Homo sapiens: one gene and its partner. The protein of the gene in region 2 interacts with the protein of the main gene of each other region in a pairwise test. Each region holds a gene or a part of one and is shown on either strand. Other genes may lie near its edges.

Region 1 (3,500 bases), on a different chromosome or scaffold from region 2:
CACACCTGAAGTACTTGCCACTCAGGGGCTCCAGGCCCTCAGCCAGGGCGCAGTGCAGGCTGGTCTGCGCCCCCTCCCGTGCCGTCTTGACAAAGGGGGAGAAGAGCCGCCAGAGCAGGCAGAGCAGGGAGGAGTGCCGGACCAGCTCAGAGCGGACGACGCCTGGGTGCACTGCGTAGGTGGTGACCCCGGTGCCTGGGACAAAGAGGGCACAATTAGATCAGGGACACACTCTGAGCCCAGGAAAACAGCTTATCTCCTGCAGCAAAATACACAAGTGAGAAGGAGGGACTCAGGAAACATAACCCCAGGATTCAGCAGGTACCACTCCTGGCCAGGCGGAATTTGAACAGGAATGAATTGATCTTTCAGAAAGATCTATAGCCTTCTCAGCCTTCTATGTTCCAAAAGGAGTGCCTGGTTCGAGGTCCTTCTATTTCAATGTCGTTTTTATACTGTGGCTTTAGTACTACTAATAAACATGACAACATGTAGTGAGTAGTATCAATCATTGACAGTGGTATCTTTATCATTTCTAAAGGAGGAGTTTAGGGGTAGCGATCTGATTGGAAGGTGGTGGGTAGGACTTTATTTTGAGCTGCATTTGCCTGGCAAGCACATTTCATGAGGTATAGATTGAGGGATGGTGATGCAGATTGTGGGGGATTAACACCCCCCCCCCACAAGATATCCCTGGTGCGGTCACTATTTTTCAGTACCAATTATGTGCCAGGGCCATACAACATGCTTTAAATGTATTATTTCATTTAATTCTTAAAGAGGCTTGTAAAATAGAATATTATGTTATGATACCCATTTACAACAAAGAAAACTAAGTCACAGAAAGTTTAAGTAAATTGCCTAAGGTTATACCTGGCAGGGTGCAGGGCCAAGGTCTGAACTCTGATGTAAAGTTAAAAACATGGAATGGACTGTCTGCATTTGAATCCTGGCTCAGCTAGGAACCTTCCTTGGGCAAATTTCTTAATCTGTCAGTGCCTGTCTTTTCATATTTAGAGTGGGGGAAAATAATAGCACCCACCTCACAGGAATGTTGCAAGTATTAAATGAGTTAAGATGTGTAGTACATGGCACACATAAACCTCTCAATTATTATTGTAATAGTTATTGTTTATTTTTATGATTACCGTCTTCTTCTACTGTAGGCATTCTGGAAGTGAAGATCATTGTTCCCAAACTCTGGCTTATTCACTGTAACAAATGGACCCCTAGATCCGCAGATGTCAGAGCCAGCAGCTCACCCAGTGCTCCAGGAGAGCACAGAATCATTAAGGAATAAGAACCAGCCTGACCTGATTTTACAGCTGAGAAGATGAAGTCAGGGGAGGTTAAAGGGGCACATCCACATCCACATCCACATGCGGCTAGCATGTGGTAGAGCAAGAACTTGGACCCAGGGGTCTGAAATCCAGCCCTAACTCCCTGAGTCCAGGCAGTGGCAGCTCTGTAGCTCAGATCACCATGTGGACCTCAGCAAATGGCACCCAGAAGGAAGCACCCTAGGTTTAAAGCTGAGCACCCACATTCCGGTTCTGATGCCCTCACCTGCCATATACTCTTTAGCTGGCCATTTCCTTGGACCTCAGCTCTGCTCTATAAACTAGGAGTAATAATACCTGTTACCAAAGGCCTCTTCTGCCAGATCACCTGAGGTCAGGAGTTTGAGACCAACCTGGACAACATGGTGAAAGCTCGTCTCTTCTAAAAATACAAAATTAGCCAGGCGTGATATTGCGTGCTTGTAATCCCAACTACTCAAGAGGCTGATGCAGGAGAATCACTTGAACCCAGGAGGCAGAGGTCGCAGTGAGCCAAGATCGCACTACTGCACTCCAGCCTGGGCGACAAGAGCGAAACTCAAGTCTCAAAAAAAAAAAAACAAAAAAAACAAAAAGCCTCTGTCTGTTGCAAAAAGCTACTGTGAAAATCAAATGAGATAAGAGATAAGATGTGACACAAATACAAGGTAACTTTTTGAGGTTCTTAACCCCTATTTGATTTTAAGCTCCCTGGGGGCAAGCACTCTGTTTTTATTCCATTCATAATTTCATTCTCCTTAGTCCACAGAGATATTACTGACACGTGCATGTTTGACAGCCTGACTTCCCAAGTTGCTGTGGACCTCTAATTTGGTCTGAGGACCATTTTTGCTATTCCTCTTTCTCCAGACTTACCTTGGAGCCTCTTGGCCAGCTCACGAGTAAAAAGCACATTGGCCAGCTTGCTGTGGCAATAGGCAAAACCCCTGCTGTAGCGCTTCTCGCTCTGGAGGTCGTGGAAGGGAATCTTGCCAATGTGGTGAGCCACCGAGGACACATTAACCACCCGTGCAGGGGCAGACACCTTTAGCCGCTCCAGGAGCAGGTAGGTGAGGAGGAAGTGGCCTGTGAGGAGAGCCAGCAGGGAAGATTGAAAGTGGAATGACAGCCCAGGCTCAGCATGTGGGAGCCAAGAGGACTTCAGTGTTAGCTCACTATCTTCTGGGTGTGAACCAATTTTGATGCCATGAGTAACTCTAATGGTCAGTTTGGTCTGAGTTTGTGGATTCCTCAAAGCAAGAGCCAGAGCTAGACTACAAGTAAGGCAATCATACTTAATTATATTACTTTGTACCTCTGCCCTTGACCCACCTGCTGGCTTCCAACTCCCACTCTGGCCATGATCGCATAACTAGGGACCCAGGTACACTTGTGTATAGGCAGAAGGATAGAACAGTCAGGGAAGATAACATTTGCTTAGGATCAGAAAACATGCTCCATGCTCTCCTCCCTAAAGTCTTTGCCTTGAACGCTGAACCCCACCCTGCCTCGTACTCAAGTTCTCAAGGATTGCCTACCTCCGTGGACCAACCCATGGCTTGGTTGGCCATCATGTAGATGTGACCCCTCCAGCCAAGCCCAGATGCCTGCATAACCCCAGGTCTGGCCCTGCCTGGCAAGCCTTGTACTGCCACTGCCCCATCCAAGAATGACATTCTTCTCCCTGGTATTTCCTGAAATTTGGGGCTTCTTAATGGTATGGGTAGGAAGATCTCACTTTTTTAGACTGATCAGGAGAGGTACAGTGAACAACAAGCCAATGGGTCTAGTCTATTGGAATTCCTAGGCTCTATGAAGGCCCCTGGACATTCTCCACATTTACACAGTGTCATCTTCCTAAAGAAAAGATAGTGGGTGTACCTCATTTTTTAGTCACCCAAAGATACTTACCCAGGTGGTTGACTCCCAGGTGGGTTTCAAAGCCATCAGCTGTCTTGGAATATGGACACATCATTACTCCCGCATTGTTGATCAGAATATGGAGCTGCTTTTCCTCTATAGGGCACAACCAAAGAGATCCTATGGTTAGCAAGGAGTCCCCTAGCTGCCTGTAACAGACCTGCATAATTGCCCTTTCCCTTTGTTCATTAGTTGTCTTTGTTGGGGTAACATTTTGATAGGAGTCACTTGCTCTGCCCCTTCCTTTTAAAACAAGGTATT
Region 2 (3,312 bases):
AGTTCTGGAGCCTTCAAAACACAGACTGATTATCACGCTGCGATAATTGGGAGAAACAGCTCTTCTGGGGGTGTCTGCAAATTGAGGTCTTGATGATTTCATTAGCAGAAGTCACATTAGGACAAATGTATCCCCAAGTTTTCTTTGGCTACTAAGTCAAGTCTCTAGCTCTTCTGCAAATGTCGTTGTTAAGTGCACTTTTCAAGAAACACATAGCTGACAATAGGTGGAAAAGACATTTCTGTTTCCAGATGTTTCAAGATGGCAACATCTTGAAACAGGTGGGCAGGGGCAAGAGAGGATTGGAATTATTCTTGGTTTCACTTGAGGCTCCCCAGCCAATCTTGTCGGGAGACAGGAGGGCAAGGCACACACCAGCCTGGACTGTGCTGTCACCTGCAGACAGTCTGAGCTGATTGTCATTAACCCTTTTAACCACACATGGTAACTTACGGCATCAGAGAGATTTCTACAGATACATGAAGCCACCCTCTTCAAATTTTATCTAATGTTGTTACTTAAGAAAATTGAGTTAGAATCATGAATACATTGACCAAACGTTTCTTTTTAGTGTAGACCACAGATGTCATTAAAGCAAAAATGGTTTTCAACACTAATATGAGTTAAAAACTCCTGCATTGAAATTAAGAGGCAAATGTATAAACACTCCAAGTATAACTCATGTATTTGAAAAAGTAAACAAAATTAATGCTTTTCTTTCTAAAAACTATTCGAAAAATTGTCCTCAAAATAATAAAAATCACCAGGCGTAGTGGCCCACACCCGTAATCCCAGTGCTTTGGGAGGCCAACGCGGGAGGATCGCTTGAGCCCAGGAGTCCAAGGCTGCCGTGAGCTAGGACTGCATCACTGCACTCCAGCCTGGGTGACAGAGTGAGATCGTGTCTAGAAAGGAAAAAGTTAAAAAAAATTTCATTGTAGTTTGAAACCCGTAATGAGATTTCAGGCTCAAAACAGGCAAATTTTACTAAATGGTGAAAAGTAGACAATAACCATGAGACCTAAACTGGTCCAGAGTGTGGAAAGTGGGTCTAGCCCCAGTCTACCCCTTACTCACCATGCCGTTGTGAATGAATTCACTCCCCTCTCTTGGCCCCGCTGTCCTCAACTGCATGAAGAAGAATCTGGGTGATCTGACCTGGCCCATTTCCCAGCTCTGTATGCAGACCCCGGACTAGCCAGTCCCATCAGGACCTACCACTATCTAAGAAACAGGGCTCCTCAGTCATCGGACCACAAGGTCAGTCTCATCAGGAGACAAACACTGTGGACCCGATGTGAGCCAGATGCAGGGCAGACCAGCTCGCCTTCCTCCTGCTGTACCCTCACCACGTCTCAGCAAGATGCACAGCAGCACAGCATTGATCTCATTTCATAGATGAGTCCCACAGAGGTGAAGGGGCTTGCCTCGGCCACACCGTCAGGGTGCGATGGTCCAGGCTCCCTCCACCCCCGGCCCTGCCCCCAGGTGTGTGCTGATGCCTCACTCTCAGCCTTGATTCCCAAGCTGCCACAGCAGGTGTTGAATAATGATGCATCCTGTTGTGTAAATGAATGGCTGGGCACCCTGGCTCCCGAATAGAAGAACCCTGGGACAGCTGACCCCTTCCTTGTTTAGGAGTGGAACTGTCTCTGATTCATTTTCCACATCAATCCTGCATGTAGTTGGTAAGAGAATCAAAAGGAAATGTAAAGGAATAGCCTGAAATTAAAAACAAGGAAAGAGGGGTGATGGCACAACCCCTGCGGCTAGGAACCCTGGAGGGCCGGGCCAGGTGCAGGCCAGGGGCACACCTCTTAGTCATAATAACACAGCCGCCACTGCCGAGCCAGGCACAAGCAAACCCCTTCTCACGCTTATGCGCCTCCTGCCCACAGGAAGACACCAGCGGTGACTACAAGAACGCCCTGCTGAGCCTGGTGGGCAGCGACCCCTGAGGCACAGAAGAACAAGAGCAAAGACCATGAAGCCAGAGTCTCCAGGACTCCTCACTCAACCTCGGCCATGGACGCAGGTTGGGTGTGAGGGGGGTCCCAGCCTTTCGGTCTTCTATTTCCCTATTTCCAGTGCTTTCCAGCCGGGTTTCTGACCCAGAGGGTGGAACCGGCCTGGACTCCTCTTCCCAACTTCCTCCAGGTCATTTCCCAGTGTGAGCACAATGCCAACCTTAGTGTTTCTCCAGCCAGACAGATGCCTCAGCATGAAGGGCTTGGGGACTTGTGGATCATTCCTTCCTCCCTGCAGGAGCTTCCCAAGCTGGTCACAGAGTCTCCTGGGCACAGGTTATACAGACCCCAGCCCCATTCCCATCTACTGAAACAGGGTCTCCACAAGAGGGGCCAGGGAATATGGGTTTTTAACAAGCGTCTTACAAAACACTTCTCTATCATGCAGCCGGAGAGCTGGCTGGGAGCCCTTTTGTTTTAGAACACACATCCTTCAGCAGCTGAGAAACGAACACGAATCCATCCCAACCGAGATGCCATTAACATTCATCTAAAAATGTTAGGCTCTAAATGGACGAAAAATTCTCTCGCCATCTTAATAACAAAATAAACTACAAATTCCTGACCCAAGGACACTGTGTTATAAGAGGCGTGGGCTCCCCTGGTGGCTGACCAGGTCAGCTGCCCTGGCCTTGCACCCCTCTGCATGCAGCACAGAAGGGTGTGACCATGCCCTCAGCACCACTCTTGTCCCCACTGAACGGCAACTGAGACTGGGTACCTGGAGATTCTGAAGTGCCTTTGCTGTGGTTTTCAAAATAATAAAGATTTGTATTCAACTCAAAGTATCTTTGGATGTTTAGCAGGGACCAGTGTAGGACCAATTTAATTTGTCAGAAACAGAGCTTTGGGGAGCCACGAAGCCTGAGCGCCTCGTGGGCATCTCCCAGTGGGAACACTGGATGGGCTGTACCTGAGCACCTCATGGGCATCTCCCAGTGGGAACACTGGATGGGCTGCAGCCACCGCTGCCCTGGGGACAACTCTTGCAAATGAGGGTAGATTCTATTCACCTCCTGATGTGTAGGCTACATCCTTGTATCTCAGGGTTAGAGAGGGATTTAAAGTCAGCTGGTGCTGTTCCAACCTGTGGCCTGACTACCCCCTTGGCATCCACCCAGGGGTGGTCCTTGGTGTGCTTGGGGTGCACTTGGGTACTCAGGGTGTACTGGCGATACTCAGGGTGCAGTTGAGTACTCCGGGTGCACTTGGCTGCCTCCAAAGATGGGACTCACTGCGTCCTTTGACAGCCCAATCTTTTTCCAATGGATGTGACCAGCAAAGT

Evidence for each region.
Region 1: the proteins of ANXA8 (region 2) and RDH12 interact in a two-hybrid assay, tested with the Homo sapiens proteins (one large-scale study listed by IntAct).

What each region holds. Positions count from the first base shown.
Region 1 is NC_000014.9:67,725,886-67,729,385, reverse strand, and holds part of RDH12 (retinol dehydrogenase 12), read right to left. Parts: intron 3,336-3,500; coding exon 3,231-3,335; intron 2,406-3,230; coding exon 2,196-2,405; intron 495-2,195; exon of another isoform or gene 196-494; coding exon 6-195; exon of another isoform or gene 1-5. UniProt on the Homo sapiens protein: Retinoids dehydrogenase/reductase with a clear preference for NADP. Displays high activity towards 9-cis, 11-cis and all-trans-retinal. Shows very weak activity towards 13-cis-retinol.
Region 2 is NC_000010.11:47,467,493-47,470,804, reverse strand, and holds the end of ANXA8 (annexin A8), read left to right. Parts: intron 1-1,898; coding exon 1,899-1,958; 3' UTR 1,959-2,812; downstream 2,813-3,312. UniProt on the Homo sapiens protein: This protein is an anticoagulant protein that acts as an indirect inhibitor of the thromboplastin-specific complex, which is involved in the blood coagulation cascade.